Linked DNA regions of Homo sapiens: region 2 is linked to region 1. Evidence: fine-mapped expression QTL. A gene starts in region 1. The other region holds a variant in brackets. All regions are shown on one strand. Distances are between the middles of the regions.

What was found.
Region 2: its variant is fine-mapped to the expression of SSNA1 in whole blood (TOPMed, PIP above 0.99).

The regions. Positions count from the first base shown.
Region 1 is chr9:137,184,232-137,192,541 of GRCh38, forward strand. It overlaps SSNA1 (SS nuclear autoantigen 1), which reads left to right and starts at 4,445. Exons shown (of 3, transcript NM_003731.3): 1 at 4,445-4,547; 2 at 4,835-5,034; 3 at 5,576-6,135. The coding sequence starts at 4,496. The coding sequence ends at 5,683. It overlaps ANAPC2 (anaphase promoting complex subunit 2), which reads right to left and starts at 4,329. Exons shown (of 13, transcript NM_013366.4): 1 at 4,185-4,329; 2 at 3,250-3,872; 3 at 1,993-2,125; 4 at 682-856. The coding sequence starts at 4,301. It overlaps TPRN (taperin), which reads right to left. Exons shown (of 4, transcript NM_001128228.3): 2 at 8,220-8,310; 3 at 8,028-8,134; 4 at 7,388-7,943. The coding sequence ends at 7,881. RefSeq lists an enhancer at 4,237-4,456 and a silencer at 4,487-4,836.
Region 2 is chr9:136,832,904-136,841,213 of GRCh38, forward strand. RABL6 (RAB, member RAS oncogene family like 6) reads left to right here. Exons shown (of 15, transcript NM_024718.5): 8 at 2,839-2,942; 9 at 4,443-4,759; 10 at 4,959-5,112; 11 at 6,006-6,218; 12 at 6,319-6,583; 13 at 6,791-6,962; 14 at 7,251-7,309; 15 at 7,419-8,284. The coding sequence ends at 7,619. Among named protein-coding and RNA genes, the nearest start is that of AJM1, 5.4 kb to the right of the region's middle. RefSeq lists an enhancer at 5,413-6,294. The variant G/A (reference allele first, on the strand shown) is at 4,176.

The DNA.
Region 1 (8,310 bases):
GGCCCTGGGAGCCCCAGATGCAGACACAGAGCAGACACGGCGAAGGCACAGGGAGCCCAGACGCAGACACAAGGAGCCCAGACACAGACACAGAGCAGACACGACGAAGGCCCTGGGAGCCCCAGATGCAGACAAAGAGCAGACACGGTGAAGGCACGGGGAGCCCAGACGCAGACACAGGGAGCCCAGACGCAGACACAGAGCAGACACGGTGAAGGCACAGGGAGCCCAAGACGCAGACACAGAGCAGACACGGCGAAGGCACAGGGAGCCCAGATGCAGACACAGAGCAGACACAGCGAAGGCCCTGGGAGCCCCAGACGCAGACACAGGGAGCCCAGACGCAGACAGAGCAGACACGGCGAAGGCCCTGGGAGCCCCAGACGCAGACAGAGCAGACACGGTGAAGGCACAGGGAGCCCAGACGCAGACACAGGGAGCCCAGACGCAGACACAGAGCAGACACGGCGAAGGCACAGGGAGCCCAAGACGCAGACACAGGGAGCCCAGACGCAGACACAGAGCAGACACGGCAAAGGCCCTGGGAGCCCCAGACGCAGACACAGAGCAGACACGGTGAAGGCACAGGGAGCCCAGATGCAGACACAGAGGAGACACGGGGAAGGCCCTGGGAAGACTCCCCAGACGGGAGAGCGGACCCCAGGGCCGGGGCAGGACCACCTCGGACGATGCTGAAGAGCTCCTCGATGCGCAGGCTGGCGTAGATGCGGTAGAAGAACCTTTGCACGTGGCAGCGCCAGCGGCGCAGGGTGTTGCCGGCCTCGGGAGATGCGGGCCTGGCGGGGCCGTCCTGCAGGAACACCTTGCCGAGCCAGCCGACCACCCGCTCGATCCACTGTCAGGAGAACGCTAGTGTGAGCTGCAGGGAGGCATGGTGAGCCCCGGGCTGACTCAGAGGCTGGGAGGAGCCTCACGGCCACCCACCCTGTCGGCCGGGACCGAGGGGAGCCCGAAGGCCACCTGCGTCTGGAGGCTGGAGCACATCAAAACCTGCAGGGTGGGTGATGGCCCAAAAGGCGACGTCCCGGCCCCCCTGCAGTCTTCGTGCCTCTCACACGCGCCAGTGCCCACACTTATCACTGGCAGCAGCAACCCTAGCGTGAGACATGACAGACACACACGACCTGTGCGCTGTGCCTGGTGGGCACACTTGCCCCCACTTAAATGGATAAACACGCCCTTGAGACCAGCCGGGGGGCCCAGGCGAGCACAAACCTCTAGGTGGCAATTCCGCCGCGGGGCCCAGGCGTGCTCATGCCCCACAGACCTGCTACCCAGTGGCAAGACCGCACGGATGTTCACCCTCTCCACCCTACTACCCACTCTTGCCCACCGCTTTGGGGACACCCTCCCTCTTTGAAAACCCAACATCACAGCCAATCTGCACCTCAGTAGGGGGACTCTGAAACACTGAGGAAAGGACAGGTGACACATGGGAACAGGATGGGGGGACCCACATGGCTGGGCCCAGCTCCCCTATGGCTCCGGGAGCCCAGAGCAGAGCCCCAGACCACACCCCAACAGCACAGGTGCCTGGAGGCCCCATGTGAGGGTGTCTCGCTCCCCGCTGTGGTGCAGGCTGGCTGTAGGTCAGTCCATTAGGGACCGGCCAAGCGAGTCCACACTCAAGTAGGGCAGCAAACAGGAGAAGGGGATCCATTCAGTGGCTCCTCTGGTGGGCCCAGCTTCGCCACACCTGCCTGAGGTAGCCCCCTCGGGATCCTGGCCCGATACCGCCTGCAGCCATGGGATTCTGCGCAGATCCGAAGAGCGCACCTCAGATGCGTCCTCGCTATCACCAGGGCCCAGAAGTACTGGTCTCTACCCCACATCAAGACAGCTCCAGCCACCACCCGGTCTGGGCCCACCCAGGCCTCCGTGCTCTGGATGCTTCTGAAGCCAGGTGTCAGGTTTGCCAGAAACCTACTCCCCTGTCTCCAGCGGGGCACAGCCCAAGGGAGGGGTCCTCACCTTGTGGAACTCACGCAGGAAGGAGCGCTCGTACTCGCCCCGGCAACGGTCCTCCATCCTCTCCCGGGTCACCTGGTGCAGGGTGGTGGTCACAGCCTCGGCACTGACCCGCTCCAGCAGACTGAGCCTGTGTCTAGAGGAGAGCCCTGGCCATGGGGCACCCAGAGCACACACCGGCCCCTCTAGCCCAGAACAGCCCCATGCCAGGACTGCCCTGCCTGTAGAGTGCATGCAGCACACACACACACACACACCCAGCACACACCTCCCCACAATCCTCAGCTGTGGGGGGCGGTTGTACCAAAGGCTTCAAGAAGCCACTGGGAGCACAGAGCACTCCCAGGCTCTGCTGTCCCCGCCCAGCTGGCCTCTATCCAGGTAGGGACACTGGCCTTCCCCATGTGATCAGTGGCAGCAGGTGTGGCTGTCGGGGGCCCTAGCCTTATCTCCTAGGATCAACTCTGAAACGACAACCAACTGCACTGCTACCCTGGCCGCAGAGGTACAGATGCCACTGTTTGTGCCTTTCAGTGCAGTCTCTGGTCTACAGTGACAAAAGGACTCAAGAGGAGGATGAGAAAAGTTGCCGTGTAACTTTTGCAGGGATGAGCCCAACAGAAGCCCTTCACGGTCTCCCTGACCCCTGCCAGCAAAAGGAGCACTCCTTTAGTCCACCTTTAGTCCACCTAAGACCTCTCAAGTAGCTGCATGGCTACACCCCCGTTCAATGTGACAAAACCACCACAAATGGCCAAGGGTATGACAATTGCTAGAGAACTACAACAGGACCTGTCTCTCACAACAAACCCCTCTCCTCTCCAAACTAACAAGAGACTGCTTGCCCTCACAGTGACCTGATCTTCCTGGAGAGAAGCAGCAGCAAGCTTCTGTTCACAATTACAGGGCAAGGAATGTCGACGAGGGTGAGAATCATTCCTCCCCAGGATCGACAAAAGGCACAGTGGAATTCTGCAGAGTCCAGGAAGTTTGGAGTTGCTAAGAAATTTGCTGCTGCAGACACAAGCCACATAGGGCCTTACCAGGGTCAAGGCATGAATCTGTGGGACTGAAGGTGAGTGACAGAAGAGAGACACCTGTGTCCAGGACACGCTGCACAGGAATCCCTGGGACTCTCTCTCTGTCATGTTCCTGGTTATCAGGACGGCTCACCAGCTTTCTGCTGAGGCCAGCTGGACCCAGGGGAGCAGCGGGGAACCAGAAGGAGCAAGGGCATGGCCATCGGGACAGACTACTCACAAGACCTGGCTGAGCTGATGGAACTGCTCCAGAGCCTGGCGACACCAGCACTGTTGCTTGTCACTGCTGCACCCTGCACACAGCGGGCTCTGCAGGAGCCGGTAGTACCGGCGACGGGCATACCGGCTGTCCAGCTCCCCTTCCAGTTCCGGGTCTGTGCCCCCTTCCCCCTTCCTCTTACTCTGCATATAGACTCTCAAGAAGCACCCATACAGACGCTGGATCATCTCTTGGAAGGTTCTGGGGGTGCTAAAGAACAAGACTCCGCGCAACATAGTGTGGACTTCTTCTCGCAGCCCCTGAGCACCAGTGCCCATCAGCAAGCCCAGGCGAGTCCATTTCTCCAGCAGCTCTAGGCTACGCAGGTAGGGATCCAGGCGGCTCTCCAGCAGGCCAAAAGCGTCAAGGAGTAGCAAAAGGCACTGGGGCTCATCCGCAGAGTTCTCGCATTGGGAGATGGCATTCCAGAACTCAGGGGAGATGTTGGCCTGCAGATCGTTCTGCAGCACCTCCACGAACCACTCCTCCAGGACCGAGTGTAGCCCGTGGCCCCTCAGAACCTCCACCGCCGCCCGGAGCTCCTCTTCCTTTGGCGGGACTGCACCGCTGGTCCGGGAAGACACCTGGGGTGCAGAAAACCGTGAGGCGAGGGGAACACAACATAGAGGTGGGGAGAGGCGGGGAAGGGAAGAAGCTGAGGGGGAGGCTGCAAAAACTCCGCTGCCCCCTGTCCGTGCTGCCCGGACGTTGGGCCGAAGCTATGGAAGGGCTGTCAGCGGAGCTGAACGAAACGAAACGGAAAGGTGGTGGAAAATGGCAGGACAGGACAGAGGCGGATGATGGACAGAGCCGTATGAACCCGAGGGTAGCGGCCCCAAAGCGCGTACGGTCCCGGAAACTCCGCGCGGGGCCGCCCCTCTCTTCCCAGGCCTCACCAGCCCCAGCGCAGCCGGCGGCACCAGGCCGGTGCTCACGGTGTTCCAGGCCACTAACAACTCCTGTCCGGGCCGGGAGTCGCTGTCCCCCTCCGCCACCACAACTGCCGCCGCCATCTGCACCCACCGACTCCGAGATTCGCTCGGCGCGGCGCGCGGCGATGACGCACGTCTGCACGCGCAGCCATGACGCGCACAAGGCGCTCAGCGATGACGCGCTAGTTCGGCGCGCCGTGGGGGAGTCGTGCGCAGGCGCGGACAGCGCTGCTTCCGCGGCGGTTGGGGTGGTGGGGCCCCGGGCGGCGTTGACCATGACCCAGCAGGGCGCGGCGCTGCAGAACTACAACAACGAGCTGGTCAAGTGTGAGCGGCGCAGCCGGGACGGGGAGGTCGGGAGGGCCGCAGGGCCGGGTTCCCGGCTCGCAGCGGGGTGCCCCTGGACCCGCCTCGCTGCGGGCATCGCGCGGCTGAGCAGAGCCCTCCGTGCCGGAGGCCGGGTGTCCGTGGCCCGAGCCCTCGCTGGCTCGCAGGCCCCGCGCCGGGCGCTCGGGGGTGGTGCCTGACTCTGGCTTCCTCGGGTGGAAGGAGGCCCGCCCTCCGCCGCCGCGCTCCTGCCCTGGGCCCACAGCGCCGCCCCTCCCGGCCCCCAGGCATAGAGGAGCTGTGCCAGAAGCGGGAGGAGCTGTGCCGGCAGATCCAGGAGGAGGAGGACGAGAAGCAGCGGCTGCAGAATGAGGTGAGGCAGCTGACAGAGAAGCTGGCCCGCGTCAACGAGAACCTGGCACGCAAGATTGCCTCTCGCAACGAGTTCGACCGGACCATCGCGGAGACGGAGGCCGCCTACCTCAAGGTGGAGCTCGGGAGGCCAGGCCGAGCATCAGGGGATAGGCACGGCAGGGGTGTTGCCACGGCAAGGCGTCAGGACCGGCTGGGGCTCCCGGCTGTGGGCAGTCTGTGCCTCGCTGGCATTTCGGGCAGGGGCAGCGTGGCCAGGCCCATTGAGGAACCCAGGCTGCTGTGGGAGTGACTGTGGGGCTGTCTGTGGGGCCTGGGGCATCCTGGGTCCTGGTCTTTATCCGGTTCTCGCTAGCCATGTGGTTATTTCTGCTCAGTGTGAAGAGCCAGGTCTTGGGCAGAGCACCCAGCACGGGCCAGTGCTAACCCAGCCTGGCTTTGAGGGTGGAGAGGAAGTGTTTTGGGTCAGATTCCGGAGGGAAGAGGGCCCTGCCACCCCGTCTGCCAGTCCCCTTGGGCTTCCGCCTTCCCCCACACAGGATCCCTTGGCTACAGCACCCCCAGCCAGGTCCCAGCACCTGAGTGTGAGGACAGCTGGGGCTTAGGACCTTACCAACAGGTGAACATTAACAACCTTCTCACTTCTCTGGCCCCAGATCCTGGAGAGCTCCCAGACTTTGCTCAGCGTTCTCAAGAGGGAAGCTGGGAACCTGACCAAGGCTACAGCCCCAGACCAGAAAAGTAGCGGCGGCAGGGACAGCTGACCAGACCACGGGCAGGGCCTGCCTCCGTGTGCCCCTCAGCTCAGCCCCAGCAAGTGTGTGCTCAGAGCATCTTTGTTCTTCACGGCAGCAGCTACCTTCCCTCACTGTCTCAGGTGCCGAGAGGGGCAGGTGCCAGCCTCCACTGGCATCAGTGACAAGCCCAGGGCACAGCCCACCCGGGGGTCCTCGCTTCATGCTCACACAGGCTATGGGGATGGTGGGCTCCAGGTCAGCTCTGCAAGGGGCTTGTCTCTGTGGCACCCACACTCCTGCCCTGCCAGGGAGGCTCTGGTTGTCTGAGCACCATGGGGGCCCCCTCACCTTGTCCCTCCTCAGCCAGCAGAGGCCCAGGGCAAGGGACAGGAGGACAGGGGTTCTCCTTCACCACAGAACCCAAACCTCAGGTCTCACCCCTGTGGCCTGTGATTATGAATAAAGATTATCTTTGTAAAGATCCGTGCCAGCCTGCTGCTTGCCCGTATCAACAGCATGGGGCTGCCAGACACCTGCAGAGCCAGAGCCTGAGGCTCCCCCTTGGGAGAGGAGGGAGGAGGGTCTGGAGTGGCCTCCCTGTGACTGCCCCACTAGCCTCAGGGACACCGCTGAGGGTGCCCACCCTCCCCAGGCCAGCCCCACCCTGAGCCCTCCCCAGCAGGGCCGCCGGTCCTCTTCCCCTGACTGGCCCACGGCTCACCCTCCTCTCAGGAGCTCTGCTTGCTCGTCCTGTTCTCTGCCACACCCTGGTGGCCAGCATAGGACCCAGCCCAGAGAGACAGCTGGGGATGCCAAGCATATCCAGCAGCTGCCTCAGATTCAGGTCCCTCTCAGCAAGGACTGGGGGGAGTTCACACCCCCCACCCCCGTCGGTTCCTCAGTTGCAAGTTTTGCTTGGCCTGATGACACCACTGCTGCCACCAGGCCCTGCTGCCCACCTTTCCCTGGCCGCACACCAAGCACTGGCCACTTCCATCCTTCCATGTGCCCTGGGGCCTCTGTTTTGTCCCTGCAGCAACCAAGCATGGCCCGAGGACTGGGCCGATTTGGGAGGCATGTGTTGATCCAGAGGGTCCAGAAAAGAGCTGGGCCTAACCCGACCAGGGAAATACACCAAACTCTCCTTCCGCCGGAGTTTGGCCAGACAGCATCTCTTTATCTCTTTGCTCTTAGGTTTGATCCTCCAGGGAGGAAATGGTGCTTGGGTTCCATGGGCTGTAAACAGCCCCAGCTCTGGCCGTCTGAGGCAGGCGCTGCTCCCGGCCTGCCTCATCCTGTGGGTCGGGGGGCACGCCAAGCCCAGCAGAAGACACCGTCCCCTGTGCTGCCCTCATGCTGCCCTTCCCTTGGTCCCTCCCCAGGCTCTGGGCCCCTCAGAGAAGCCACTTCAGGCCCAACAGCTGCAACACTCTCACCCTCCCACCTGAAGTCTAGGCCCCTGACAGCAGGCCTGTCATCCTACCTCCCACAGTGCCAGCTCTGGGAGGCTGGGGTGGAGGGGCAACAGGTTAACAGGCCATGGAAGTTGGGAGGTCAGAGCCTTGGCCACTGGGACATCAAGGAGTGGGGGTACCAGATCGGGGTCACCTCCCACACACCCTGGCATAGACGTGCAAACTGGGGCCCACTGGACCCCATGTGGCCTCTTCCTGCAGAGACCTCCCCCTGCTCCCTTCTCAGCCAAGGACCACGCAGTGGGGACACCAGCAGCCTTGTCCAGTGCTGTTTATTGAGTCCATCATCAGAGGCAGGAAAGACGCCACTCATCACAGAGGGCATGTGGGCTGCGGGCAGGGGCTTAGGGTCCTGCAGAGGACAAGTAGCTGGGACAGCCCTTCACCCCGACACCCCATGGCCACTGTGAGGCAGGCTGAGGAGACAGGACAGGGAATGGCCAGGTGCAGAATCTGCACAGCCCCCTGCCGGGTCGCAGATGGCCACCACCCAGCAGGCCCCTGGCACTCACCCACAGGCAGTTCCCCACCCCACTTCCCCCTTGGACCCTCCCAAATCAGGGCCGGGGAGTGAGACCCAGACCTGGCCCCGATGGCAGGAGGCACCCTAGCTGCTTCCAGGGCCAGGAGGGGTGGGTGGGATACAGTGAGGCCAAACAAGGCAGAAGCGGGTGCAGTAGTCCCTGGCTACTGCCCAGCTTCCGGGACTCCCACAGCTGGGCTCAGCCTTGGTCCTGGCAGTGCTGGGCTCAGAAATACAGGGCTGGCTCGCTGCGGAAGTCCGAGAGGTCATTCTGACTGGCGGGTGTGAGCTGAAAGTGAGAGGACAGAATGTGGACACATGGGCTCGCCCGGGTGTCAGACTCCCCCCAGCGCTCCACTCCCCCGCATCTCACCATGGCCTCCACGGGCGGGGGCTCTGCCTCCCTCGGGGCCTGCTCCAGCGCCTGCTCCTGCCACTTGCTGAAGGCCACAGAGTGCTTCGGGGTGTAGCTGGACAGGCCTGTGAATGGAGGTGCACATGCAGACGTGGACACAGACCAGGCTCCACCCCTCCCAGGCTGCCTGTCCCCCAGGTGGGCACTCACCTGAGCTACCCTCTGGCAGCCGAGAGCTCTCGGGTCTCACGCTGCTCACAAACGTGGCCCGGGGCAGGAAGAGTGCAAAGGGCTTCTCCTC
Region 2 (8,310 bases), 350 kb before region 1:
GGCTGCAAAGTAGCCCAGCAAATGATGAGGCTTGAACCTCCTCGCCCTGGGCTGCCCTGATTGGGTCTGGGGGACCTGAACCTCCTCGCCCTGGGCTGCCCTGACTGGGTCTGGGGGACCTGAACCTCCTCGCCCTGGGCTGCCCCAGCTGGGTCTGGGGACCTGAACCTCCTCGCCCTGGGCTGCCCCGCCTGGGTCTGGGGACCTGAACCTCCTCGCCCTGGGCTGCCCCGCCTGGGTCTGGGGACCTGAACCTCCTCGCCCTGGGCTGCCCCACCTGGGTCTGGGGACCTGAACCTCCTCGCCCTGGGCTGCCCCAGCTGGGTCTGGGGGACCTGAACCTCCTCGCCCTGGGCTGCCCCAGCTGGGTCTGGGGGACCTGAACCTCCTCGCCCTGGGCTGCCCCAGCTGGATCTGGGGGACCTGAACCTCCTCGCCCTGGGCTGCCCCGCCTGGGTCTGGGGGACCTGAACCTCCTTGCCTGGGCTGCCCCGCCTGGGTCTGGGGGACCTGAACCTCCTCGCCCTGGGCTGCCCCAGCTGGGTCTGGGGGACCTGTACCTCCTCGCCCTGGGCTGCCCCGCCTGGGTCTGGGGGACCTGAACCTCCTCGCCCTGGGCTGCCCCGACTGGGTCTGGGGGACCTGAATCTCCTCACCCTGGGCTGCCCCAGCTGGGTCTGGGGACCTGAACCTCCTCGCCCTGGGCTGCCCCAGCTGGGTCTGGGGGACCTGAACCTCCTCGCCCTGGGCTGCCCCGACTGGGTCTGGGGGACCTGGGGCCCAGCTGCAGCTGCAGCAGCCTTGGTCTTTCTCCAGAAGGATGTCAGGCTTGCCCAGGAAAGGGGCTGTGCTGTCGTCCTGGTGTCAGAAGAAGTGAGGATGCCTGCAGGCTGGGACTGCTGCTGGGGACGTTTGGGTTGGAAGGAAGGCGGCAGTCAGACTTGTCCTGTGCCGGCACTGCTGGGGAGGCCCCTCCTTCCTGCAGAGCCGTCCCCTCATCACTGGGTTGATTACTCCTTAGAGAGCTCCCCACTGCTCAGCTGCTCCATTCCCTAATGGTTTGCCCTCCAAACCCTTCCAAAGCCTCCCAGGGAGAGAACGGGACCCTGGACAGAGTCTTGAGCTGGAAGCGTAGGGCTGAGCTGTGTGTGACTATCCTTTTGCTATGGATGTGTTCAAGCAGATCTGATGTCCTCGCCTGTCTCAGCAGCGGGACCCCTGTTTCCTCTTTGTCTTGCCCCTGGATTGCCTGGAAGCAAATTTCAGGCCTTCTTTATGTCACCTAAAAATATTTCAAACACATCTCTAAAAAAATCAGTTGTTTTTTTAACCTGACCGTAGTACCTAATGTAATACCGCATGTTAAACTCACAGAAGGTTTTTCTTGGAGAAATAAGCCACAATAACAAATTGAAAAAATAAAATTCCCAAAGAGTTCTTCCAGTCGTCAGATATTTGGTCAGTATTCAGAGTAGGATCCAGAGTTCACACATTACATTTGGTTGACAAGTCTGTAGATTTCTCTTTGTAAATCACATTTTTTTGTTGTTGTTATAGCCTGGGGACCTTAATGACTTTAATACACTCTTTTTTTTGGAGACGGAGTCTCACTCTGTCCAGGCTGGAGTACGGTGGTGCAATCTTGCCTCACTGTAACCTCTGCCTCCTGGGTTCAAGCGATTCTCCTGCCTAAGCCTCCCAAGTAGCTGGGATTACAGGCGCCTGCCACCACGCCTGGCTAATTTTTGTATTTTTAGTAGGGACGGGGTTTTGCCATATTGGCCAGGACGGTCTCGATCTCTTGACCTCGTGATCTGCCCGCCTTGGCCCCCCCAAAGTGCTGGGATTACAGGTGTGAGCCACCACGCCCAGCCTCACATTTTTATTTTAAAAACCTCTCCAGGCTGGGCGCAGTGGCTCACGCCTATAATCCCAGCTGTTAGGGAGGCAGAGGTGGGAGGACAGCTCGAGCCCAGGAGTTCCAGATCTTCTGCCTGGGCAATATAATATAGCATGACCCTGTTCTAAAAAAAAAAAAAAAAAAAAAATCTCTGAAAAAGATGATTCAAAAAAAAAAAAAGGAGAGGCCAGGCAAGTAGCTCAGGCCTGTAATTTCAGCAGAGGCCAAGCTGGGAGGATCACTTGAGTCCAGGAATTAGAGACCAGTCTGGGCAACATAGCGAGACCCCATCTCTATTTAAAAAAAGAGAAGGGGCCGGGCACGGTGGCTCCCGACTGTCATCCTCGCACTTTGGATGCTGAGGCAGCTGGATCACCTGAGGTCAGGAGTTCGTGAGGCTCCGGCGTTTGTATTTCATTTGAATCTAAAGTGAGCAGCCACAGGGACCCGCAGCTCATCAGACCAGCCTGGGGTTCCAGGCCAGGAGGGCAGTGGTTTGCTCCAGAGCCAGCTGCTTGTGGGTGTGGGACGGTGGCGACGCGTGCACCGGGGATGTGTCCTGCCACCAGAGGAGGTGTGCGTGGCGGGGAGCAGAGGGGCTTTGTTTCCCAGGTGAAGGTGCGGCTTCTTCACTCTTAGAGGTGCGTGTGTGGGTGGGGGTGCTTGCTGTTGAGGTTTATGCCTGTGACTGACAGCTGTCCCCCAAGCCATGCTGGCAGTGTGTAGGTGTCGTGCCGGCCACCGCAGAGGAATCCTCTGGGCTTCTGTGGTTCAAGTGGGGCCCAGCGCAGAGCTCCATGAGTTGCTGAGCAGCCAGCCCTGCAGCATCTCCTGGTTTTGGCAGCAGGAGGCGTCCCCTGTGCATTCAGGGGCTGTGGGGCTGGGGCACTCGCAGCAGGAAGGAGCCCTGCTCAGGCCTGCGTGCTCCCTTTCTGCAGAGGGAGACGCTGTTGCGGCAGCTGGAGACGAACCAGCTGGACATGGACGCCACGCTGGAGGAGCTGTCGGTGCAGCAGGAGACGGAGGACCAGAACTACGGCATGTATGTGGCCGGACCCGCCCGTGCGGGCGGTGTGGGGGCTGCGGGCGTGGCCGTGGTGCAGGGCCATGGGCTGCACCAAGGAGACAGCAGAGGGGAGTGTCCCCTGTTTGGGGTAAATTAGTCACCTTTGGGCACGGGTGGAGGAGGACTCAGGTTTGCACTGCCCCCAGCAGCCCCCCCACAGTCACCCCTGGCGTGGACTCCTCATACAGGTCATGCTGTGCCTGCCACTCTGAGTACCGCTGACCGTGGCCAGGTGCTGGTGCTCATGGAGTGCTGCTGGGGCTGCCTGCCCATCAGGGGCTTGGCCTCCCAGATTGATGCCAGCATGGGGTGTGCTTTCTGGGGAGCTGCTTGACTTTGGGAAGCTCCCTGTGTTGAAGAGGCATACAGGCCAGGACATGGAGGTCTCTGGTCCTCGATAGCAGAGGGCGGCTCAGAGCATCCTCCTGAGTGGGCCTGGGCAGTGCATAGCCCCGGGGTTGCGGCCAGTGGGACAGCTGGCCCGTTCTCTGCCTCAGGCTCCTGTACAGCTAGGGGCTTGGTGCCTCCCCTGGGACCCAGGCAGGGACCACGGAATCAGTGGCCCTCCTGAGGCCCCCCAGGAGGTCTCTGTTTCCAGAAGGAGAGCCCTGTGGGTCACCTTGGATCTGGCTGTTGGCTCAGACACAGCAAGAGACCGAGAGGGAAGGCAGTTTGATGCCTGGAGAGGGACCCGTGGCTTCCAGCTGCCAGGCCAGCCCCAGAATGGAGCCCCCCGCATGGGCGCTTCTCTGTTGAACCAATCCTGGCATTTCCTGGGCCTGAGAGTTGGGTCAGCTGGATGCTGCGATGGCCGCACGTGCTCCACCAAGCCCCAGCCCCCTCCTCTTCCCAGAAACCCCCGCTCACGGGAAGGTCCAGTTGCTGCCATCTGGCCACCTCTGCATGGAGCCCCCAACAGCTGTGCCTCAGAACAGATCCGAAGTGACTTTCAGGGGAGCTGGACACATGTACGCTGGTGCCTGCTGTCCCCACCCTTTGGCACTGCTGCTCTTTCTTTTTCTGAGATGGAGTCTCGCTCTGTCGCCCAGGCTGGAGCGCAGTGGTGTGATCTCGGCTCACCGCAAGCTCCGCCTCCCGGGTTCACGCCATTCTCCTGCCTCAGCCTCCCAAGTAGCTGGGGCTACAGGCACCCGCCACCACACCCGGCTAATTTTTTTTGTATTTTTAGTAGAGACGGGGTTTCACTGC[G/A]TTAGCCAGGACGGTCTCCACCTCCTGACCTCGTGATCTGCCTGCCTTGGCCTCCTACAGTGCTGGGATTACAGGCATGAGCCACCGTGCCTGGCTGGCACTGCTGCCCTTGGAAGTGGATGGGGATGATGGCCTCTGTGGGGCGGGTGGCCCAGAACACAGTGGCTCTTCCCAGCCCCAGCAGCAGCAGCAGAGAGCCCCCTGTCACCTGAGGGCCTCAGGGAGAGGCAGGGGAGCCAGGCTTCTCACCCGCCTTCTGCCTTTCAGCTTCCTGGAGATGATGGAGGCTCGCAGCCGTGGCCATGCGTCCCCACTGGCGGCCAACGGGCAGAGCCCATCCCCGGGCTCCCAGTCACCAGTGGTGCCTGCAGGCGCTGTGTCCACGGGGAGCTCCAGCCCCGGCACACCCCAGCCCGCCCCACAGCTGCCCCTCAATGCCGCCCCACCATCCTCTGTGCCCCCTGTACCACCCTCAGAGGCCCTGCCCCCACCTGCGTGCCCCTCAGCCCCCGCCCCACGGCGCAGCATCATCTCTAGGCTGTTTGGGACGTCACCTGCCACCGAGGCAGCCCCTCCACCTCCAGGTAGGCCCTGGAGCTGCCCCTCCCAAACTGGTCCCAGACCCCCAGGCCCTCACAGGTGGGGTCCTGGATTTCGGAGCGCTCCACGCTTCTTCCTGCTTGTCCCAGTCCCGTGGGCACATCCCGGGTGGGCCTGGCTTGGGGTTGGGTGCAGTGAGGGTTCTGGTGCCGAGTGAAGAGGACCCGGCATCACTGTTCACAGAGCCAGTCCCGGCCGCAGAGGGCCCAGCAACGGTCCAGAGTGTGGAGGACTTTGTTCCTGACGACCGCCTGGACCGCAGCTTCCTGGAAGACACAACCCCCGCCAGGGACGAGAAGAAGGTGGGGGCCAAGGCTGCCCAGCAGGACAGCGACAGGTGAGGGGTGGGCCTGGGCCTCCTCTCCCATTGCCCCCCAGCCTCCAGGGTGCCCGAGCAGCAGGTGGGGCTGGCTTTCTAGGGGCGCAGAAGGGGCCCCCCGCCGGCTGGTCACTGTTGGCTGAGGACAGAGCAGCTCTGTGGCTGGAGCAGACGAGGGAAGGGCTTGGACGGGGCTTCCAGACATCAGAAAGGCCTGGCCACCTGCTCTGCCCACACCCTGGAGAGGACAGGGGCACCTTGGGGTCTTCTGTGGGCAGATGCCACATGGAAGCCATTGGAGAGGCCACTGCAGGTCATATGGGAGGTTCAGGCCACCAGATGTGGTCTCCACAGGGCCAGGATCCAGGTGCTGCAGAGACAGGGGCGGCTTCCTGCAGGTCCTAGAGCTGGGAGCTAGAGCCGCCTCCCCAGCCATCTGCCAGCCCCTCCCACCACTCTGTCTGCCAAGCTGCCCCAAATTTTGCCTGCAGCAAAGCCCTGCATTTGGTCCCAGGACAGCCCTGGACAAGCTCCACCCACAGTGGCCTCAGCACCTCAGCCTCACCCATTGCTGTGGGGCAGCGGCTTCCTCCAGAAATACACAAAGGACAGAAAGCCCCGTGGCCCTGAGCTGGGCCCGCCTCCTCCACGAGCGCCCACTTGTGCGGCTCCACATCCTTCACCCACTGAGCGGCCGCAGGGCAGCACTGTGTCCAACCTTGTGCCCCCGACCCCTTCCTGCTCAGAAGCCCTGTGACCATGAGGGGGCCTCTCCACAACACAGCACCTGGGGTGGGGTGGCCCCACGGCCAGGGTGTGCTGGGTACCAGGGCGCCTAGAACCAAGGCCCGTGAGCCCGGCCAGCCATCCCTACCCCGTGGCCCTTGACCGCTTTGCCCCCTGCTTTGCAGTGATGGGGAGGCCCTGGGCGGCAACCCGATGGTGGCAGGGTTCCAGGACGATGTGGACCTCGAAGACCAGCCACGTGGGAGTCCCCCGCTGCCTGCAGGCCCCGTCCCCAGTCAAGACATCACTCTTTCGAGTGAGGAGGAAGCAGAAGTGGCAGCTCCCACAAAAGGCCCTGCCCCAGCTCCCCAGCAGTGCTCAGAGCCAGAGACCAAGTGGTAAGGGCAGGTGTCCCCACGGGTGCGGCCTGGAGACCCGGGTGGGGCAGTTCAGGACGCCTCCAGAGGACCCTGACTGACCCTCTGCTTGTCCACAAAGGTCCTCCATACCAGCTTCGAAGCCACGGAGGGGGACAGCTCCCACGAGGACCGCAGCACCCCCCTGGCCAGGCGGTGTCTCTGTTCGCACAGGTCCGGAGAAGCGCAGCAGCACCAGGCCCCCTGCTGAGATGGAGCCGGGGAAGGGTGAGCAGGCCTCCTCGTCGGAGAGTGACCCCGAGGGACCCATTGCTGCACAAATGCTGTCCTTCGTCATGGATGACCCCGACTTTGAGAGCGAGGGATCAGACACACAGCGCAGGGCGGTAAGACGAGTCCTCCCGGGGCAGAGGTCAGCCAGGTGGCCAGGGTCCCTCCCACAGGCCTGATCTGGGTGGGTGCAGTGGGAGGAGGCTTCTGGAAGAGGCATCTCATGTCCCCACACTTGGGCCTTGCCGGCCTGGTTTGAGATCCCACAACCCCTGGGGGTGTGGGAGGGATGATGGCCTGACCAGTTGCTCTCCCTGCTCCAGGATGACTTTCCCGTGCGAGATGACCCCTCCGATGTGACTGACGAGGATGAGGGCCCTGCCGAGCCGCCCCCACCCCCCAAGCTCCCTCTCCCCGCCTTCAGACTGAAGAATGACTCGGACCTCTTCGGGCTGGGGCTGGAGGAGGCCGGACCCAAGGAGAGCAGTGAGGAAGGTGGGTGGGGGCACCAGAGTGCGGTCAGCCTGCTGGAGTTTGGGTAGAACGTGGGCCTCCTCCCAGCTGCTGGCCGCTGGCCGGGGTCCTCTCCTGAGTCCAGGATGCTGTGCCATGCTCCTGGCAGCCCCCTGCAGGAGCTGATGTTTGCAGTGTGGTCCTGTCCATCAGCAGGGCCTCCTGGAGGGCTGGGGCTCGCTGCTTTGTGAGTTTCTAGAGAAGTCCTGTCACCCAGCTTGGGGTCCCCGTTGGCCTGAGTTTGAGCCACTGTCTGTCCTGTCTGTGCAGGTAAGGAGGGCAAAACCCCCTCTAAGGAGAAGAAGAAGAAGAAGAAAAAAGGCAAAGAGGTACTGGCTACTCCCCTTCCTGGCAGGCCAGGACTGGGTGGCATGCGGTCCTGGGACCAGGGCTGTGGCTTCCTGTGACTCCATGGCGCCCCATCCTTGTGCTCCTCAGGAAGAAGAAAAAGCTGCCAAGAAGAAGAGCAAACACAAGAAGAGCAAGGACAAGGAGGAGGGCAAGGAGGAGCGGCGACGGCGGCAGCAGCGGCCCCCGCGCAGCAGGGAGAGGACGGCTGCCGATGAGCTGGAGGCTTTCCTGGGGGGCGGGGCCCCGGGCGGCCGCCACCCTGGGGGTGGCGACTACGAGGAGCTCTAGGCCGGCGTGGGCAGTGGCCGCCCTGGGGCGGGGGGCGTGCCTGTCACTGCCTGGGGAGGCATTTGCCTCTGTACCATCGCCTTTGCCGCTGCCCCGTGGCTGCCGTGTGCGCTTCTGAGCTGGAAGAGGCCGGGCATTGGTGGTCCCCAGGCTGGGCCCTGCAGGTGCTGGGCCTTCAGGCCCAGTGTGAGCCTGCTCTGCAAGAAGGGAGGGGACAGCTGGCTTCAGCCAGGCTCGGTGGACACCCTGGCCCTCTCGGGGCAGAGCCGCCAGTGTTTCTCAGGGATGTGACTGAGGCCCAGGAGGGACCTGTGAGGGTCTGTTTACAGAGGCTGGGCAGGGGCCGCTTGGCTGTGGGGTGTGCGCTGCCCCGGCACCTGCTTGCCCTCCGCGCTCATCTGGGGCCGCAGCATGCCTATGGTTCCGCTTCCGGCCGGGAGCCCTGAACACGGGTGTGCAGACTCACCCTAAAGGGCGGCCCAGGCCCCACGCTAGAAGGCTGGCGAGACCGAAGGCAGCATGTGAGGCCTCTCCTGGGAGTGGGGGTTGTGTTTCCCACAGTGGCCTCAGCTGCGCCCCCGCTCAGGTGAGCCCGAAGGCAGGAGCCGGGAGGCACTCCTCCCAAACACTCCACTCAGACCATAAAGCACTCCTGTTTCACTCTGCGTGTGTCTGTTCTTCTGCCTGTACC